Regions from separate parts of the Homo sapiens genome. Here regions 1, 2, 3 and 5 are each linked to region 4. The links come from fine-mapping of genetic effects on gene expression. A gene starts in region 4. Each other region holds a variant in brackets. All regions are shown on one strand. Distances are from middle to middle. Region 1 overlaps SUSD1 (sushi domain containing 1). Region 2 overlaps SUSD1 (sushi domain containing 1). Region 3 holds the start of SUSD1 (sushi domain containing 1). Region 4 holds the start of LINC02977 (long intergenic non-protein coding RNA 2977). Region 5 overlaps SUSD1 (sushi domain containing 1).

What was found.
Region 1: its variant is fine-mapped to the expression of LINC02977 in blood mononuclear cells (TOPMed, PIP above 0.99).
Region 2: its variant is fine-mapped to the expression of LINC02977 in macrophages (Nedelec 2016, PIP 0.95).
Region 3: its variant is fine-mapped to the expression of LINC02977 in blood mononuclear cells (TOPMed, PIP above 0.99). The same link has a PIP of 0.9 or more in monocytes, prefrontal cortex, subcutaneous fat, tibial nerve and whole blood.
Region 5: its variant is fine-mapped to the expression of LINC02977 in cerebellar hemisphere (GTEx, PIP above 0.99). The same link has a PIP of 0.9 or more in cerebellum.

What each region holds. Positions count from the first base shown.
Region 1 is chr9:112,058,399-112,062,517 of GRCh38, forward strand. SUSD1 (sushi domain containing 1) reads right to left here. Exons shown (of 17, transcript NM_022486.5): 14 at 30-288. Among named protein-coding and RNA genes, the nearest start is that of LINC02977, 20 kb to the left of the region's middle. The variant T/C (reference allele first, on the strand shown) is at 2,443.
Region 2 is chr9:112,108,949-112,113,067 of GRCh38, forward strand. SUSD1 (sushi domain containing 1) reads right to left here. Exons shown (of 17, transcript NM_022486.5): 7 at 3,823-3,920; 8 at 2,706-2,892. Among named protein-coding and RNA genes, the nearest start is that of SUSD1, 64 kb to the right of the region's middle. The variant G/T (reference allele first, on the strand shown) is at 2,050.
Region 3 is chr9:112,173,246-112,177,364 of GRCh38, forward strand. SUSD1 (sushi domain containing 1) reads right to left here and starts at 2,052. Exons shown (of 17, transcript NM_022486.5): 1 at 1,888-2,052. The coding sequence starts at 1,990. It also overlaps the pseudogene RPL29P20. RefSeq lists a silencer at 1,511-2,170. The variant T/C (reference allele first, on the strand shown) is at 2,164.
Region 4 is chr9:112,038,494-112,042,612 of GRCh38, forward strand. LINC02977 (long intergenic non-protein coding RNA 2977) reads right to left here and starts at 1,931. Exons shown (of 3, transcript NR_186812.1): 1 at 1-1,931. SUSD1 (sushi domain containing 1) reads right to left here. Exons shown (of 17, transcript NM_022486.5): 16 at 3,374-3,467; 17 at 2,290-2,999. The coding sequence ends at 2,999. RefSeq lists enhancers at 2,539-3,178, 2,574-3,773, 3,179-3,817, 3,929-3,978, 4,069-4,119.
Region 5 is chr9:112,114,663-112,118,781 of GRCh38, forward strand. The region is part of intron 6 of SUSD1 (sushi domain containing 1); the gene reads right to left. Among named protein-coding and RNA genes, the nearest start is that of SUSD1, 59 kb to the right of the region's middle. The variant A/G (reference allele first, on the strand shown) is at 1,849.

The DNA.
Region 1 (4,119 bases), 20 kb after region 4:
AGTTCACAAGAGCTTGGAAAGAAAGATACCTTATTCCATTCACTTGTGATTCGTAATATAATGCAGTAATCACTCCCTCTTTTCAAGGGTGCATTATAATATTCCCCATAGTACAGCCTGTCTCCTATAGGTATCTCCATGGCATCATCTGGAACATCTTTGGCCAGTAGTTCTGCAGCCACGTATCCATCAGCATCAGAGGCGTTGCTAAAGAAGGAGGAAGCGCCTTCAGAATCACAAGAAAATGTGCTTTGGAGGGCCAGGGGAAGCACTAACACCTGATATGAACTGGAAGAAAAAAGGAGAAGTGTCCATCAGACCCTTGCATGGGGAGTTCATTCATTCATTCATATTTATTGAGCACCTGCTATGAGACAAACCTCTTTCTTTGTTTTTTTGTTTTTTGTTTTTTTTGAGATGGAGTCTTGCTCTGTCACTAGGCTGGAGTACAGTGGTGCAATCTCGGCTCACTGCAACCTCCATCTCCCAGGTTCAAGCAATTCTCCTGCCTCAGCCTCCCAAGTAGCTGGGACTACAGGTGCATGCCACCACGCCCAACTAACTTTTGTATTTTTAGTAGAGATGGGGTTTCACCATGTTGGCCAGGCTTGTCTCGATCTCTTGACCTCATGATCCACCCGCCTCGGCCTCCCAGAGTGCTGGGATTACAGGCGTGAGCCACTGCGCCCAGCTGAAATAAGCCTCTTTCTAGGCACTGGAGACACGACACTAGGCAAGAAAAAGTCCGGGCCCATGTGGGATTTACAGTCTGATGGCTCCAACCATCATGGAATTCCAGTTTGAACCTAAAGGGTTAATGCCAGACGACACAGGGCAAGGGACCTCTCCAAGTTCTGGCTGCAGAGAGATGCCAAGTACATCCTCTTTCGCTGGGAGAAGTTGTTGCAAGTATCACTGCCCTGTGTGTGTGTCATAAAATTGACCTGATCAGTGATTTTCACGTGGGCAAATAAAGCCCAACTGTGGAAAGGGTTAGCAGTCACATGGAGACCGAGTGCCTACCACAGTGAATGTACTAAGTCCGGAAAAAAGGCTGCAGACAGTCATGCGGTGACCTGAAACAGAACTCATGTGATTTACATCCCCTACAGTTCATGGGCTGATACCAAAGTTCATGTGAAATAAATGAGACGCCAAGAGTGCAGAGTCACCATGAGTTAATCTAGTCTGACAACACCCTGAAACAGCCAGAACAGTAATATGTCATGTATGCACTGTAAAAACTGTTCCCCAATTGTGGACAGAAAAACACACTAACAAATGGGTATTGTTTTTGTTATGTGTTTCATTATTTGTCCCATCAAATAGAAAGCCTGGCAGTGAAAGGACGTGTGAGAATAAAAATGCACTGAGAATGAATCACACTTCCCTTCTATTCCCATCTATCTGGTACTTAGCTCCTGCCTCTAGTACCATGTTGAGCATCTGCTGTCTCTGTCAGGCTTGATAGCAGGGATCTGAACGACTGACTTGTATTCTTGCAAATCCTTGCACAGTTCTTTGGAAATGATAGCTCCCCAACCCCCGCCCTGCCCCGCCCCTCCGCCACCAGCAATGAATGATTCTTGAGTTGAAATTTCGGAAAAGAGGAAAAGCATACATCAGCGTGAAATATAATTAGGGTAATTTCCAAAACTCATTAGGCCATGTAATTCTATTTTACCAGTAAATTTGAACTTCCTGCTTCACATGTCAAACGCCCTATCTCCTGCTTCCTAAGAGCCCATGAATCACTAGGTTAAGAAGAGGGAGCCCTCCTCCACAGTGGGTGTTGGATATGGAAAGTCTCCCCCCACCAGGTTCCCAAACATCCTAGGTATCCTCAGGGCCCTGATTTTCTTTCTTTTCTTTTCTTTTTTAAGAAGGGAGTCTTGCTCTGCTGCCCAGGCTGGAGTGCAGTGGTGTGATCTCAGCTCACTGCAACCTTTACCTCCCAGGTTCAAGCGATTCTTCTGCTTCAGCCTCCTGAGTAGCCAAGACTACAGGCACTCGCCACTATGCCCGGTTAATTTTTTTTGTATTTTTAGTAGAGATGGTGTTCCACCATGTTGGCCAGGCTGGTCTTGAACTCCTGACCTCTTTAGCTGGGGGAAGTTGTTGCACGTATCACTGCCCTGTGTGCCCACCTCTGCCTCCCAATGGGCTGGGATTACAGGCGTAAGCCACTGTGCCTGGCCCAGGGTCCTGATTTTCATAAAGTCTTGGCTCACTTTCAGCCAAGGGCTTTCTACAAAAGAGATAAAGTAAAACCCACAGGGCAATAAGTTGTCACCACCAGTAAACATTTATTAAGCATCCACTGCCTATGGGGAACACCTGTAACAACAAACTTGCCGGGAGACTTGAAGACATCCCTACATCATAGCCACAGGTAAGAAAGTAAATGTTGCAGCACCTCCATGCGGTCCATAAGTACATCTT[T/C]AAATCCCTCTCATCTTTCCATGCAGGTGGTGGTGGTCAAGAGCAAGGTCGAGGCTCACCTGTGCCCATTTGGTTCCGTACATTGCTCACTAGAGGCATCATCGACAGAGTATGAATCAGCTCCCCAATTAGCCTGACCGTAATCACCTGTGTTGCTTGATTATTATACAAATTCCCCGACCTCATACCGACCTACTGAATCGAAATCTCTAGGAGTAGATTCTGGGAATCTGTATCGCTGGTAAAGCTCCCAGGTGATTCCTATAATCTGGCAATGTGGGAGACACGAGCATTAAGGGAACCCAGCAACAGGCTCCATCCTCTGCCTAACATCAGCAACCTCAGCAGAGACTTGGTCCCAGGGACCTTGCTCCATTATGTACCCCAAGACACTGTCCCTAAATGGTGCACAAAGCAGACTCAGGCCTGTCTCACACACTGGCAAAGCTGCTGCCCCCCAGCTCAAACCAGGTAGTCAGGCTTAGGAAAACCACCCTGCCTGCTGGTAATTAGCCATGTGATGTTAAAGAAGCAGCTGTGGCTGTTTGGAATATGACTGTTCTGGAAGGACTTTTCTCCTCTTTTTCACCACCACACTCCCTCGAATGACTCACAGTTCTCCACTTCCTGTTTTGGAGGCGCTGGCCGGCATATAGCCACAAGGGTAAGCTGTCATTTGGCTTTTCTTTTGCATTATGTCATTATTTGACATAAATATCACATTTGTTCTTGCAAATGCTCTCAGGAAGTGACATCACAACTTCTGTTCTCTTTATAATGACAGAATTACAATGCCTTCTGGTAACTTGTCAAGAATCAGAACAATTTATACAATGTCCATCCCTGGAAAGATCTTTGCACATTTACTGAACTTAAATGAATATAAAAGCAGGAAAACCCTAAGTTTTATTATAAATGGATATACAGATAATATCGCCAGACTTTCTTTTTTGTAATTTTATAATATCTCACTTTTTTTTTTTTAACCTTGATTTTACCGAAGGGTCAGCAGAGACAAAGGCAATGTTGGTGAGGCCATGTACATTTTCATCTCCTTGAGCTGGTACTGTGAGCAAGCTGTTCATCTCTCCACGCCAACCTCAATCTTCCTCTCTAAAAAAGGGACTGATGCTACTTTCCTAATCCTGCCATGACCTTTGCAAATAAAACACTTAACTGAACACACTGTAGTCCTCCAACTGAGGTAAATTAATTCCATCCTAATGCCATCTGGAATCCCAGAAGCAGTCATTAATTATACAGTGTCTTGCCTGTAACTCAATACATGAAAAGACAAAAAGATTTACCTAAATGATCTTTTCAGAAACCACTGCACACCCCCCAAGATCAACCTTACATAAAGGGCAACATATTCTGCCTTTGGGAAATGAAACGATGCCCCTGACCCACCATCCATAAAGGATGTACTATGAGACATGAGTGCAAAGGACAATCCTGACATGTCCTAACATGCAACCGACGTTTACCCAGGGACCAAAGGAATGGATGTAATTTCTTGAGCTAAACTGCCCAAATGCTTGTATATAGGGTCCTTTAGAAGTCTCTCTATGTGGCCGGGTGTGGTGGTTCAAGCCTGTAATCCTAGCACTTTGGGAGGTTGAGGCTGGTGGATCACCTGAGGTCAGGAGTTCAAGACCAGCCTGACCAACATGGCAA
Region 2 (4,119 bases), 70 kb after region 4:
GCAACCCAAACCAATCAACCTCTAAAAAGAGAAAGAACCAAACTTAGGAGTCAGAATAACCTGGGATTATATAACCTATGACCCCAGAGGAGATGTAAGCAAATATTCCATATGCCATTCTGCCAATATGTGTAGTATATCAACCAAATATACATTTTTTAGAAAAATATAAAAATTGACTCAAGAAAATGTCAGAAACATAAACAGACCCAAAATCATGGAAGAAATTGACAAAGTTCTTAAAGAATCATCTCCTGAAAGGGGTGAAACTTCAACAATCTTTTGAGAAAGTTTTCAACTTTAAAAGAAGGGAATAATTCAAACATGATATAAAGTATTCCAGAGGGAAAAACAATGGAAAACTTCCCAATTCATTTTAAGGAAAATAGCATAACTCCAATAATGAAATCAGACAACAGAATGTCCAGGATCTAGAGGAAAAAAATGACAAGTCTTTATAACAGTGCATAAATAAACAGAAGACCTGAGTAGACACTGAGTAAATGTGGAAACATACCTTGCTCCCAGTTAGGATGGCTCAACATAAATCCTAATTCTCTCTAGATTAACTTGCAAATATAATCCAATTCCCTTTAGTCCAGAGACATTAAATAACTCAGCCATGATCAGCCAACTCTTCAATACAGAGTTAAGATGCAAAACCGGATCTGCCTGACTCCAAAGACCATGTTTTTCCCAAGGGAAAGGAACTTGAACAGGTAATTGGATATTAGTAAAAACAGCTGACGCCAAACAGCAACCTGTCATCCTCACTGAACAGTGGCAGGTGAGTGATGATCTTTTAAAGACATTTCCCTATAGTAGTTTACTAATAATTTTGTAAGACTTCTCTGATTAGTTACCATATTAATTTTATAATATCTTTGCCTGCATATTATTTACTTGCAAAGAATTAATTTTGTTTTATTTATATACAAATGTCAAGAGACCTAATTTGTATAATCTCATAGTTGGTTTTATATTGTTAAGATTGGCAGACTTTTTCAACTATTTCTGCTGAACTATTCCCAGCTACTCGGGTTAAGGTACAGTTTCAGTGGGATAGCAAACAGCTAATTAAGAACTTTCTCAACTCCCCCAAAATAATAAATGACATCGGCCAGCTGTGGTGGTTCACGCCTATAATCCCAGCACTTTGGGAGGCTGAGATGGGCAGATCACTTGAGGTCAGGAGTTTAAGACCAGCCTGGCCAATAAGGTGAAACTCAGTCTCTACTAAAAATACAAAAAATAGCCAGGCACGGTCGTGGATGCCTGTAATCCCAGCTACTCAGAAGGCTGAGGCAGGAGAATTGCTTGAACCTAGGAAGCAAAGATTGCAGTGAGCTGAGATCGCACCACTGCACTCCAGCCTGGGCGACAGGGCAAGACTCCATCTCAAAAAATAAATAAATGACATCAATTACTTGTCAAGGTTTGTCTACCGGGTTTTTTGTTTGTTTTCTGAGACAGGGTCTTGCCCCGTCACCCAGGTTGGAGTGCAGTGGCATGATCATAGCTCACTGCAGCCTTGAACAAGTGATCCTCTCGCCTCAGCCACCCGAGTAACTGGGACTATAGGCATGCACCATCACACCAAGCTAAATTTTCTTTCTTTTTTTTTTTTGTAGAGATGGGGCCTCACTGTGTTGCTCAGGTTGACCTCAAACTCCTGGCCTCAAGCAATCCTCCTCAGCCTCCCAAAGTGCAGGGATTACAGACATGAGTCACCGTGCCCCACCTGTCTACAAGGTATTTAATTAGTCCTCATACCCATAACCAGAGCTTTTTTTTTTTAACTTACTGTAATTGTCACAATGTTGTTAAAAACCCACATGACAATTATGTAAAATGAGGTTTATTTCTACTTCTTAAAGCTCCTTCATTCCACTCCTTTTTTCAGCTAACACCTACCCTCCTGCACCCTAGGGGTGCCCCTGCTTCCACTTCCCCACTCTCAACTTGATCTCTTTAAAGCTGCTGGGTCAGCCTCCCTGGCACCTCCTCTTTCACACGCAAGAGCAAGAAATGGCTTTTTGGTTTTTTTGG[G/T]TTTTTTTTGAGACAGAGTCTTGCCCTGTTGCCCAGGCAGGAGTGCAGTGGTGCAATCTCGGTTCACTCACTGCAACTTCTGCCCCCTGGGTTCAAGTGATTCTTGTGCCTCAGCCTCCCGAGTTGCTGGGACTACAGGTGTGTGCCACCACACCCAGCTAAGTTTTTCTATTTTCAGTAGAGATAAGGTTTTGCCATGTTGGCCAGGCTGGTCTGGAACTCCTGACCTCAAGTGATCTGCCCACTTCAGCCTCCCAAAGTGCTGGGATTATAGGCGTGAGCCACCACACCTGGCCAGAAATGACTTTTGAGTTTACTACCAAAGATAAGCCACATGGCTACCCTCTGTTGCCTTGGATATTTGAGAGTGGACTGATCATCATTTAAAAGGCATTCCTTTTAAATGCCTTTTTATTACTTTCCACCTCTCCCGGAGGGCTCAGCTGAGAAAAAATACCCCAGAGCCCATTCAGCCTGGTACCAAGAGGATACGGATCTCTTGACCTGCTCTAGTTCTGTGGCTGGAGCAACTACATCTGAGTATAAATCTCAGACAGCAAATAGGAGCTCTCCAGCCCAGCTGATTCTGCAGCATACTTCCCCACATTCTGTGCTTAGCATTTTCTAGGAGGAAATGAGACTTCACCTCCACCTACCAGCTGTCTGGAAACCGATGACGGCTGGCATCGAGCGCCTGGGAGGTGCTGTGGAGATGTTCACGGTGTAGTTGGTGCCTGGGTACAGGGCTAGGCACACTTCTGGGGTCCTGCTGTCTGTGGTCAAGTTGACTGTCTCCTCACGAACTGATTCCATAGGGTCCAACCGTTGTCCTTTTATGGATATCTTTGAGAGGAAAAGACAAGAGAACCCACTCTGACTCCAGTCAAAACAATCCAGGATTTGTGGTGCTGGAGCCCATTCTCCTACTATTCTATTTTATACTGTGCTGCTCAGCCAGGGAGCATTCGTAAGGTAAACCTGGTCTGCTGATAAAGTCTGATCAGCCCAGTGAATATTAAACCCCTAGAGGAGACATAAATGAGAAATCTCCCTAGGAAGTGCTCTCCTGCACACAAATGATCAAATGGAGACAATTGCAACCTGAGGACCATTGGCTGCACTCTGTCACCAAGTCAGCAGACGCTCCCGGGCTTGCTCTGGGGGAGTGAAATACAAGTGCTTGGAAACAAGCAATCGTGAGGATGCCAAATATAAATGCATCCCCCACACATGCACCCTGCTGAATGACAAATATGTTAAACACAAAATGCAAAATAACGAAATCATCCAGATATCTTCAAAAATTCCATCCACTCTTTTTAAATGACAATGGGATCAGAAAGCAATTAGATTGAGGCCAGGCGCGGTGGCTCATGCCTATAATCCCAGCACTCTGGGAGGCCGAGGTAGGTGGATTATCTGAGGTCAGAAGTTCAAGACCAGCCTGGCCAACGTGGTGAAACCCCATCTCTACTGAAAATACAAAAAATTAGCCAAGCATGGTAGTGCACACCTCTAATCCCAGCTACTCAGGAGGCTGAGGCAGGAGAATCGCTTGAACCCGGGAGGCTGAGGTTGCAGTGAGCCAAGATCCCACCACTGCACTCCAGCCTGGGCAACAGAGTGAGACTGTCTCACAAAAAAAATAAAAGAAAAAAAGAAAAAAAAACAGCAATTAGATTGAGAAGCTCTCACGGAAGCAAGTCCCTCTGACTCATATTCCCATGGGTGACGTGTCTGTCCTAGCAGGAAAAAGTAGATCACTTTACTTACCACATATGAGATCTTGGGGTTTATTCTTCTTGAGTTTATTTGCCATCTCACACAGGTATCATTAAACAGTGATACATCATTAATCTTTGTCAGAATTTCTAAAAGAGAAAAAGGCAGTCAACTCACAAAATGCATCAATGGGCTTTAGCAAAATTCTAAAGGAGATCAGTCTCTCTGCATAGCTGGTATCTCTGCTGGTCACCATTCATCCTCAGAGGCAGACACTGAGTCAGGCAATGCAAGCTCTCCCAAGCCAATCACCCAACTTCTCTTCATCATGAATGAGCGTGGCCCATT
Region 3 (4,119 bases), 130 kb after region 4:
CATCAGGCATGGTAAAAGTCCCAAGCCAAAGAGAATGGGGGTGGGGGCGGCAGGCAGGATTCTCAACCACAAGTCTCCTTGTATGTCATCACATGGAAATTTCCTTCCACTTCAGGATCAGCGTTTGGTTTTAGTAAGGAAGATGGGGGTTCCTTAGACCCTCTTTCCCCCGCCTCAAGTTTACTTATACAAATAGCAAAGGAGGACATCAGCCCCATGCAGATGGCAGTCCAAGGGGGACAATCCTTCTGTCCTCACGTTGGCAGACACAGATCTCTACTCTGAAGGCTTTGTAGGGGCCTGAGCTCCTTCGGGAGTCTGAGCTGGAACTGAAGCTGGAGCTGCAGCCTGAGCCTTGGTTTGATCCTTGACCTTGGTCTTTGGCTGGCACAGCCTGAGCCCCTTGGCAATGCGGGCACGAGCACGTTTCCCAAGCTTGAGGTGGGCAACGTAGGCAAGAGCTGACACCCTTTGGAATCTTGGGCTTAACCTCCTTGGGGTTTATGAGGGCAAGGCCTCAGCACGTGCACTCATGGCCTTGGCACTGTCGCCCTGCATCTTCTTTAGGCCCCTCTTATTGTGCTTCTTGGCAAACCGCATGTTTGTCAGGAACTTGGGGTCCACCCCTTTAAAAGATTCGTATCTTTGTGATCCGGGTTTCATGATGCCGTTTCTGTGCCATTTTCGGGACTGGTTGTGTGTGGTGTGGTGCTTGGATTTGGCCATGTCTGCACTGTAACCTGTGGCTCCCGAAGCGCCTAGAACTGGCTAGACCCACTTTTCTTGTCACTCCCTGAGACGGCTTCCAGTGGCTTCCAGGCACAGCTAAGTCCAAAGGCCTAGGTCTGCCAATCAAGGCACTCTGCCCTCTGCCTCTGGTGCCTCCGTGTGCTTCCTTCCCTTCTCCCCCGGGCCTGAATTCTGAAGGAATTCATTCATTCTACACTCATTTGTGGAGAGGTGACAGTGCCTTCTGCTATGAGCTGGGATACCTTTTTCACATTTTCCCATATCCAAATATGACCAATCATTGATGGCCCAGCTCAAGGGTCACCACCGATTCCCCTTTCCCTGCCCTCACCACCCACACCTTCTCATGGCACCCATGCCATTCTGCCTTGTATTACAGTTATGTGGATGAATGTCACCTCCCCTGCGTGTCTGAATCCTCTGTGTAATTCCTACTCAGCTCAACACTGCATTTTGCAGAGGAGGAAAAACAACTCCCTCGATTGCTTGGAAATAGAACATTTGCTGGTCTAAATCCTCCAGACAATGAGCTCCACGAGGGCCCGCACTGCCCGCCCTCATCGCGCACAGGGAAGCTGTTCAAGGGCCATCTGTTGAATGAATGAGTGAATTAATGGCTTCACTCCTGTACTCTTCCTTACGCGTCTTTCTCACCATATTTAGCATCCGGCTCTCTAACAACGTGAAAAAATTAAAAGTGGTAAGAAAATTGCTTCGGGTCAAAAATGTGTCATGCAAAAGCCACCGCAGAGCCGGAAGCGTGACAGCGCCGCAGAACGCCCTGGCCTCCCCGCCCTTCCCCGGGCGCCGCCCTGCCCGGGTCCGCGCTCGCGCCCAGCCCCCACCCCGCCTCCTGGGCAGTGGAGGTCCCTGGGGGCCCGGCCAGGCCGCCTTAAAACCGGCGTCCCCCGGCGTCGCGGGGTCGGGCGGGGGCAGGGAAGCCCGGCGGGGAGCCCCCCGCTTCTCTGAGCTCCTCCTTGCCGATCTCCAACGGCCGGCGCGGGCCCCACCTGCGCCCCACGCCTCGGCACCGCGCCGGCCCGGCCCAGGGGCGGGGAAGCGTCCGTGCGCCCAGAGTCCTCGAGGCCCAGCCGGGGGCCCCGCCGGCCGCCCGTGCCCGTCCCAGCCCGCACTCACCGTCGGGGCCCGGCGCTCCCGCGGCGCCGCGGGCCAGGCCGAGCAGCAGCAACAGCGGCAGCAGGCGGCGAGACGGGCCCGCATCCCAGGGCCCCCGGCCCATGCCGCCGCCGGTCCCTCCCGGCGCGCCCGCGCCTCCTCCCGGGGCCCTCAGGGTGCAGAGATAAGGCTACAGGCGCCGCGGGGAGGGGACCAGCCGGCGGCTTCCGGCGCCGCCGAGGGAAGCGGGGGGCGCTGCGGGGTCCCCGGGAGGCCGCAGAGCGCGGGTCCTTCCTC[T/C]TGTCGGGGCCTGGGCTTAGGACACGCCCGTTCCGCGTCCGTCTCTGGCTCCGCACTTGCTGCCCTCTCGCCGCTCACATTCGCAAAGGGGGACAGACACTCATCGGATAATGACACAGCTGGACGCAGAGCCCCGGAGAGTGCTGGGGAGGAAATGTTGCGGAGGATTCAAGCCACTCGAGGGCTCAGGGAGGCACCCCCGGGGAGAGGGGTGAGGGGAGCAAGGGGCGGAAATCTTCCAGGACGTGAAAGGGAGCTGGATGAGGTGACCACAGCGCAAGGCCCAGATGAGAGGTCGGAAGACGCAGACCCAGGCCACCCAGGGGCGACACACTTGACCAGGTGACACCTGGTCACCGGGAGTGAGAGAGAGTAGGGCTGTGATGGAGGGAGGGGCTGGCATCAGTCCCCGCTGCTCTGAGGACACCCGGCTTGGGACGCGCTGATGCCAGCCCCTACCTCCATCACAGCCGTACTCATCCCAAGGGAAGGAGTAAACCAAGACCCAAGGATGAGAAGGACGTTGGGGAGGAATCTAAGCGGGAGTTTGTTGTAGAAATGGGGAATGGGGACCTAGAGTGAGAGCAGAGGGTTGGAGAGGGGCGTTGAGCTGCAGAGGGAAGTTAGCCCTCCTAACCCAAGTGATGGAGGTCGCCGGGAAGCTGTCACAGTTTCAAGCAGTGAATGACTTCATCACTGACACATCTCTGTCTGTTCTGTGGAATTGGGATTGGGGTTGGGTTGGGATGTGGAAGGCAAAGAGTCCAGCCCGGAGTTGCTGCAGGAATCAGGCAATAGAAGACATGTCCTGGCCCGGTGCGGTGGCTCACGCCTGTAATCCCAACACTTTGGGAGGTCGAGGCGGGTGGATCACTTGAGGTCAGGAGCTCGATACCAGCCTGGCCAACTTGGTGAAACCCCGTCTCTACTGAAAAAAAAAAAATTAGGTGGGCACGGTGGCAGGCACCTGTAATCCCAGCTACTCGGAAAGCTGAGGCGAGAGAATTGCTTGAACCCAGGAGGCGGAGGTTGAAGTGAGCCGAGCTCGCACCACTGCACTCCGGACTGGGCGACAGAGTGAGACTCCATAGACAGATAGATAGATAGATAGATAGATAGATAGATAGATAGATAGATAGATAGATAGACAGACAGACAGACAGACAGACAGATAGAGATAGAGATAGATGTGTCCTGCAGCTGGGCATTGACAAATGAGTGTGAAGAGGGCAGTGTGTAAGAGTGGAATCCACTAGGTTTTATGACTAGTCGGGGAGAAGGAAATAAATAAGATCCGGTTTGAAGGCTTTGAGCTTGTGATGTCTGTGGGAGCGCAGCCGAGAGCAGGCACCCCACTACTTCACCCCATATCCTCACTTGTTTACTCTCTGCCATGAGCCTGCCGTAAATCTCACCACTTTCAAACACACCCATATAAGGGCTAAAGTTGTGGAGTCTTAACAAGTAGTTAAAAATCAACTTCAAGCTGGGTGAAGTGTGGCATGCCTGTAGTCCCAGCTACTAAAGAGGCTGAAGGGCAGGAGAATTGCTTGAGTCCAGGAATTCAAGGCCCATGTGGGCAATACAGTGAGACCCCCTCTCTTAAAAAAACAAACAAACAAAAACAAACAAAGAAAAAGCTCATCTTCCTAGGCTCTTTTTTCCTCTTGGGGAGACAAGGTCTTGTTCTGTTGCCCAAGCTGGAGTGCACAGCTCACCACAGCCTCAACCTCTTGGGCTCAGGTAGTCCACTAGCCTCAACCTCCCAGTAGCTGGGACTACAGGGGCGCAGCATCATGCCTGGCTCATTTAAAAAATTTTTTTTGTAGAGACAAGATCTGGCTATGTTGCCCAGGCTGGTCTCCAACTCCTTGGCTCAAGCAATCCTCCCACCTTGGTCTCCCAAAGTGCTGGGATTACAGGAGTGAGCCACTGCATCTGGCCTCACAAGCTCTT
Region 4 (4,119 bases):
TAACACTGAGCAATTCTGTGTTATAATTTGCAGCAGTTAGAGGAAATCCCAAAGTCCACGTTTTTGTTATTTCAGTAAATTTTTTTGGATCTCACTCTGTCACCCAGGCGGGAGTGCAGTGGTGTCACCACGGCTCACTGCAACCTCAGACTCCTGGGCTCAAGCGATCCTCCTGCCTCAGCCTCCTGAGTAGCTGGGACTACAAGTGCACGCCACCATGCCCGGCTAATTTTTAAAACTTTTTTTGCAGACATGGGGTCTCGCTATGTTGCCAGGGCTGGTCTTGAAGACCTCCCAAAGTTTAGTAATCTTATATGAACTGCTTTTACTTTTCTGCATTGTACCCAGAAGGTGATGTTTTACTTAATATTTAGTCAGTTATTTTAACCAGAAACTTTTAATACTAAGCAAGGGGGATTTCTTCCTTTCTATCACAATTATACTACATTCCATGTGGACAACTGTATCTCTGGCAGTTAATTCTAGAGGTGGAAATTAGGGAAGGGGGTAGTATGGAAGCATACAGCATTTACAAAACTGGCAAAAAATAAAATAAGTCAAGGGGAGGCTCAGATTCTTTCTTTGGACAAAGGTGGGCTTTGAGGAAAGATCCTCACTCATCAGAGGCCGAGCCCTACACTAACCACAGTAATTTGTATTGATACCCAATTTAGTTCAGGAGCTATAAAAATGTATGTTTGCGGCCAGGCGTGGTGGTTCATGCCTGTAATACCAGCACTTTGGGAGGCCAAGGCGGGTGGATCACGAGGTCATGAGATCGAGACCATCCTGGCTAACACGGTGAAACCCCATCTCTACTAAAAATACAAAAAATTAGCTGGGCACGGTGGCGGATACCTGTAGTCCCAGCTACTCCAGAGGCTGAGGCAGGAGAATGGCGTGAACCCGGGAGGCGGAGCTTGCAGTGAGTCGAGATAGCGCCACTACACTCCCGCCTGGGAGAAAGAGTGAGACTCCGTCTCAAAAAAAAAAAAAAGTATGTTTGCATTATTGCACATAAAAATTAAAAATTGAGAGCTATTTGTATTCATCTATTGAGAGAAACGGTCTCTGGGGGTTAGGATGGGGACCTGTCCCCATTATAGACCCGTTCTGGTCTATAATTTACCTAAGACGAGAGCAGAAAGGGTTTTAAATGCTGATCCTAAGTTGTCGTCGGAGGGCAGTACCCCAGAGGACAGGGGAATCATTCCTAACACTGGCAGGGGCCAGAGGCTGACAGCTGGCATTGAACACCTGAATGTCAGGATATTACTCGCCTCTCTCTAATTCTTCCCAATAGAGCGGATACACTCTGGACTCCCTGGGGTGGAGCAGCTACATGGGCAGTTTGTACTTGTTCCTCTTGTCTCTTCATCTGCCCATAAGCCCAAGGCACTCAGAGTCTTCCCTCACTGACACCCAGCAAGCCGGTGAACACACCGGCCCACTGCATTGGGAAGCCCTTTCCTTTTGCTAAGGACTGCATTCGTCTATGCTGCATCTTGAGGCTGTGCAGTATCACCTCCCCTCCTCCATGGTTTTTCTTCTCTAGGCCTAGCAGGCAAGGGAGAAGGAGAGATGCCAGAAGCCTCTGTCTTTCCTTCCCCATTCGTTTCTTACTGAGTCTTGGAGTTAAATTGTTAGTTAGTGCCGGGCGTGTGGCTCACACCTGTAATCTCAGCACTTTGGGAGGCAAAGGTGGGCGAATCAACTGAGATCAGGAGTTTGAAACCACCCTGGCCAACATGGTGAAACTCCATCTCTACTAAACATACAAAAATTACCTGGGCGTGGTGGGGGGGCCCTGTGGTCCCAGCTACATGGGAGGCTGAGGCAGGAGAATCACTTGAACCCGGGAGGCAGAGGTTGCAGTGAGCTGAGATCACGCCACTTCCCTCCAGCCTGGGCAACAGAGTGGGAGTCCATCTCAAAAAAAAAAAAAAAAAAAAGAGGAAAGAATGCCAATTCATGATTTAAAAGTAAAATCAAATAGACTCCAGCTGTCAACTTAGCATATTCACAGTAGGTCCAGCACCGCTTATATCTAATGTTTCATAGTTCATAATGGAGTAACATTCATAGTTACTGAAGTTTAGATAAAAGAAGTGTCACCCTCTATGGCAACCCCTCCCCTGAAACACACATGGACTCTAGTCTAGCCATGGGCTCAATACTGTTTTAAGCATTGCTACTACACTACCACCAAATCTCAGTTTCTAACAGGGGGCAAAGAGCATTTTTAGAAGACGCTTAGTAACAGAAAAATTAACCAAGGGAAGAACAATCTTAATTACGGGATATTTTTACTGGAATGTAGACATTACTTTTGAATATATAGGACAATAGAAATTGCATCAAAGCAATGCTGCCTAACAGACACAGCAGGAAACTTATTGGCATGGCCAGGCTAGTATATTTTCTCATTAGTATATCAACTAATTATAGGAAAAGTACTGTTTCTAAAGTGCTTGAAACATTTGCCTACGTCACTGTTCTCTTTTTCAATGACCTCCTTCATAAAGTCAAACTCTAGCCCAAACTTAAGCCCATCTCACTGCATATTGTAAAGAATGGATTCTGAATGAATTAACAGAAATGCTTTTATATAGGAGGTTGCAGAGATTCTCTTGCAGTCAATGTCTAGAGGAGCTGACCCTCAGGCATCACTCAGAGGAAGTCCCAGCCAAGATTCACAGATCTGTATGTAGCCTTCGGTCAATATCACAGTGTACATCAGGAGTCTCAAGTTCATTGCACAGAACTGGTCCTGTAGCAGGGAAGACTCAGAATTCCTGAGTTTTCTCCTTATGGTGACTCCTCAGGGATAGCCACCATCTTAAATCCAGGAATGGGGCCCAGCTGGGAATGGAGAAAGTTGCAGGCCCACATGCTCCCTGGACGGAAGTCACACGGAGCCTCTGTGCGGGCACCTGAGAAGCTGCCAGAACACCTGCCCAGCAGCAGTGCATCCTCCCCACTCAGTGTCCATCTGCCATCTAGACATGGAGGAGGAAAAGAAAAGAGACAAATATGAACACACTTTGGTTTTCCCACTGTGCATCTCTATGCACAGCTCACACGCACACCCATGGGAGGAGGCGAGGGGGAGCAGCATGGAAGCTCAGCCACCCCTCTGTGTGTGGCCAGGGCAGCCATCACTGGTCCTGCTCTTTTCCTGGGAAGGCATCCCCCATGCTACCTGGAGGTACAGGGTTAGTCATGCCTTTCACCGCTGAGTGTGCTCTGCTGAGCCAAGGACAACCTCCACCCACACTCCCTTTGACTCCCCTCATCCCCAGCTGTTCTTCGTGACTCTGACCCATCCTCCCCTCCATTCCAGTCATTTCTCAAAAATGACACCCTCACATACCACACCGCTGAGAAGGAGAGGAATGTGAGAATGATCACAACAGCCAGGGAACCCAGTCCAACACCCGCCATCTGCAGCAGCATGAGTGACGAATCTGTGGGACAAAACCACAGGCTTAGCCCAGAGTGCACGGCATCACCACCTCCCAGGAGGCACACACCCCACTGTGCTCAATCCATTTTAACCCAGAGCTTGGCCCCATTTAACAAAGAATCCCAAGAATGCCCAACATGCCTGTGTGTCCCCTGAGTTGGCCCTGTGGATATGCAGCCTCAGGAAATTACAGTTACAAGGTATTTCTGAAAAGGAAGTGTAAAGCCAGACCATGTTAAAGTTACAAGGGAGAAAACAGCTAATCTTGTTGAGCACACAAATACTATGCAACGTGTTACATTTTTTGTTGGTCCTCTCACAATCAATTACATTTGATAGATTTTTATGGGCCGTTTTCTTTTGCATGGAGGGACAAGTCATTATGATATTATTTGAATTTGGTTTCCAAAACTGATAGCCCTGATGGTCAGATAGAGCAAAGGAATATCCTTTGTTGAGTCACCTGTCATTTTCTCCATACCTCAACAAGGGTCATACTTCCCTGCTCAGGTCAGCAGGTTTACTGAGAGGATAAAAGTACTTTGAAAGACATACTTTCTATTTGGGGACCATCACATGCCAACTCCAGGGAGATCCCCGATTATAAACTAAAAAACACTCACAGTTGAGTTGCACATGTGGGCCAAGTGACT
Region 5 (4,119 bases), 76 kb after region 4:
CCTTGTCCCATCCCTGGATGGGTTTTGACAACATGACCAGGTCTTGCCTCCTATTCTGGGACTTCCCTGCTGCAGCACCCACACCCCAGCACATGCCATCTGGAAGTGCAGGGGAGTTAAAATCCTGTGGGGACAGGAGCTGGTAGAGAAATCCTTCCTCCTTTCTTTCCTCTGAAGGGCTGTCCAACAAAGACTTAGTTTCTTCAGCGTCTAAGGACACTGTCACACAGATGTGGTAATGCCCACCCTCTGTGGAGACCAGTACAATCAGGCATCATACGCTGACTCTCCTTCTTTCCCTGTTTTACTGCCCTTGTTTCCCACTCCTGGTGCCTGGGATTTGATTCTCTACTGCATAATAAATATAAACCCAGTGAAAGGCTCCCATCTAAGAAGAGTGAGAAAGCTATTTCTCCATGTCAGAAAATGACTCTCCACAACTCAGCTCCCGTTTCTCCCTTCTAGTAAATCTCTTCGCAGTCTCCAAGTGCAAAAGGAAGCCTGCACCTTAGGTACCTGTAGGGCCAATCCTATTCTCCTGTACTCAGAACCAATGCTAGCTTTGGATTGACCCAGATCTACTGACCTCTCTGCCCAAAGAAGAGTTTATATCTTTACTAAATCATCCCTTCAGCAGCAATGCCTAGATTCTGTGTCCCACATGACCTGGTCTTGGGTAAGCCCAAGTTATCTATTAGCAAGTGAAAATCAATGGAGGCAGAGAGGGAAAAATAGGCAAACTCCTGCCGAGATACCAGAAAGGCCACCTATGGCTGTCTGCAGCATTCCTGGATCTCTATATCAGTATTTCTCCCTAGAACACACACAATTTGAAATCAAAGAAATACTCCAATTGTGGGCCAAGTGGGTGCGGTGGCTCACGCCTGTAATCCTAGCACTTTGCGGGGCTGAGATGGGCATATCACTTGAGGTCAGGAGTTTGAGACCAGCCTGGGCAACATGGTGAAACCGCATCTCTACTAAAAATACAAAAAAATTAGCCAAGCGTGGTGGTACATACCTATAATTCCAGCTACTTGGGAGACTGAGGCACGAGAACTGCTTGAACCTGGGAGGCAGAGGTTGCAGTGAGCCAAGATTGTGCCACTGCACTGCAGCCTGGGCGGCAGAATGAGACTCCATTGCAAAAAAAAAAAAAAAGAAAAAAAAAAGAAAAGAAATACTCCAATTATGAGCATGGGTACCCTAAGAGACACAATGACCTTCAGTTCGCCCCCTTGGGTAGCATAAAGATGATGTTGGTACCAGTCTTTTATCAGCCTGAACAAGCCCCAGATATTTCTGGCCTCTACCCTCTTTGCTGCCCTTCAAAGCCCCAGAGCTCTTGGCATCTCTGCTCACTTACACATCCCTTTGATGCTAACTCACCACCTGGTCCAGAAAGAAAAGGCACCAGCCCAGCCCTCATCTTCTCTCTGAGTTGCCAGCAAAGCGAATTTCCTTTTTACTCTCAGTTCCTTTGTCATCGAAGCAGAGATTAGAAAGGAGTTTTCTTTCTTGTCCTTCCTTCTTGCTCATTCACTATGACAACTGTAAATGGCATCTCAAAGATGCCATCTGCCTCCAGCCTGTGCCATGCTCTCTGCACAGATGGGACCCAGATCCAATTATAGGGGTGTCAGATATTTCATCCCAGGGAGCAGTTTAACAAAGTTTGGTTGCTTTTCCCTCCAGGTGCCTACAAATTAGTTGGAAAGACTCCTTTATAAAAGAATCAGATATTCAACATCTACATTAATGCTGCCCTTTTAATGGAGACTATATGCCCTCATTCCAATAGTGCTGATAACTGAAAACATTTCTGGAAGTCCTCTTTGGAGCTGTCCC[A/G]GGGCTCTTTCATTCCCTGCTCACTACTAACTGAATGGCTATCAAATGCCAAGCATCCTGCCATGCCAGGCACTGGGCTGTGACGATGTTATCTGCTGACTATGTAGGGAAAAAGTACTCTTGAAAGTCATAGATCTGTGAATGTTAGTTGAAGGTATGGGTGCAGGTGAGATATGCAGGTAGGACAGAGACAGTGAATGGCCCAATGGCAGAACACTGGGAAACACTGAAACCCAGGGGGGAACCAGAGGAAAAAGGCAATGCAGAAGAGAGGCAGGAGGCTGGTAGAGTGACTGATGTCTAGGAAGGAAAGGAAGGACTTGAAAGAGTGTCTCTCAGCCTTCCAAGGCCAGGCACAGTGGCTGACACCTGTAATCTCAGCACTTTGAGAGGCCGAGGCAGACGGATTACTTGAGGCCAGGAGTTCAAGACCAGCCTGGCCAACATGGCAAAAACATGTCTCTACTAAAAATAGAGAAATTAGCCAGGTGTGGTGGTGCACACCTGTAATCCCAGCTACTCAAGAGGCCGAGGCACGAGAATCACTTGAACTTGGGAGGCGGAGGTTGCAGTGAGCTGAGATCGTGCCACTGCACTCCAGCCTGGGTGATACAACAAGACTCTGTCCCTAAAAAATAAAAATAAATTCTTTTAAGAAAATTATCAGCCTTCTTTCCCACCAGTCTCCCACAGCCTCCTCATCCCCTAGCCAAGAAGGGCCTGGAGCAGGTCAAGGCAGAGGGTGCAAACTCCATCTCCCTCTCTCCTCTCACATGGCTTTTCTCCCCTCATGGAGTGCCCACGGCATCAGGATTAGATCTGTGGTTTGACTTTGGGTAGAGGTGGGAAGAGCAGGCCCTCAGCCTGCCCAGTTGTAGAACACAGAGGCCTCTCTGGCTTAAAAGAAGGAGGCCCCCACAGTGTCCAGCTGAAGTCTCACTGGATTTGGGGAGAGAAAGTCTCAGTGAGTGATAAAGTAAGAGCCTTTGTTTTGCTTTACTCTATGTGTGTGTGTGTACACACAGGTACATATATATGTTATGTATATATAGATATAGATGTACATAATGTTATGTATTTTGGTATTTTGTTAGCATCTAGTATTTCTGTATGTGGTACTTAACACACTTGTAACTAAATACGTAAGTCATTATATAATGACCACCTCTCCTGAATGTAACTTTACGATGGCAAAGACCATGTTTCTCTCTCTATCCTCAGGCCCTAGCACAGTGCCTTAAATATAGATACTAAAAACTATGTATTATTTGGTTGAACTGGTTGAATGGATGGATAAAGGATCAACAATGCTAAATGTTGTGGAAAGGTTGAGAAGAATGACAGCTGAAACTGGAACATGAAATTGGCAGTTAGGTAGTCATCAGTCACCTTGGTGAGATGCTACAGTGAAGTGGGGGTGTTCGATGCCTGGTTTCCCCCCAGTAGGCTGAGAAGAGCATAGGAGGGGAGGGAATAAGACAGTGAGCCCAGACTACTCTTTCAGAAGTCCCACTGTGCAAGGACAGGGGCTGGTCTAGTGTACTCCCTTGGTTTCCAATTTTATATCCTTTTTCTTTATTTTTGGAAACAGCAAAAGGTCATAGAGAATAAATCCAGGTGACCCAAACAGATGGTCAAGCAAGCTCAGCATCATTTCTAGTCAAAACAGCATCTGATTTCAAAAGGAATGTAACTGATCTTCTAATACGGCTCATAAACTACCTCCAAAGGACATTATCAAATAGGATTCCAAGGCAAACACATGATGATAATGGCAGCACCACAGAAATCAGGGTATGGCTTCCCACAGTGCCTACTTGAATAAATGTATGTTTGGCTATAAAAGTTTTCATGTGTTTCCTTTCTTTCTTTGAAGTCTTAGATTCACATAAAATAAGTAGGAGTAGCATGGCTTAGAGTACGTTAGTGTAAAATATATTGCACACTTTGGGATGATTTTTGGTGGCACGCGAATACTTTTTTTCTTTTTTGGAGACGGAGTCTTGCGCTGTAGCCCAGGATGGAGTGCAGTGGCATGTTCTCAGCTGACTGCAACCTCCGCCTCCTGAGTTCAAGTGATCCTCCAGCCTCAGCCTCCCGAGTAGCTGGGACTACAGACGCGTGCCACCACACCCAGCTAATTTTTGTATCTTTAGTAGAGACGGGGTTTCACCATGTTGGCCAGGCTGGTCTCAAATTCCTGACCTCAGGTGATCCACCCTTCTCGGCCTCCCAAAGTGCTGGGATTACAGGCGTGAGCCACCGCGCCCA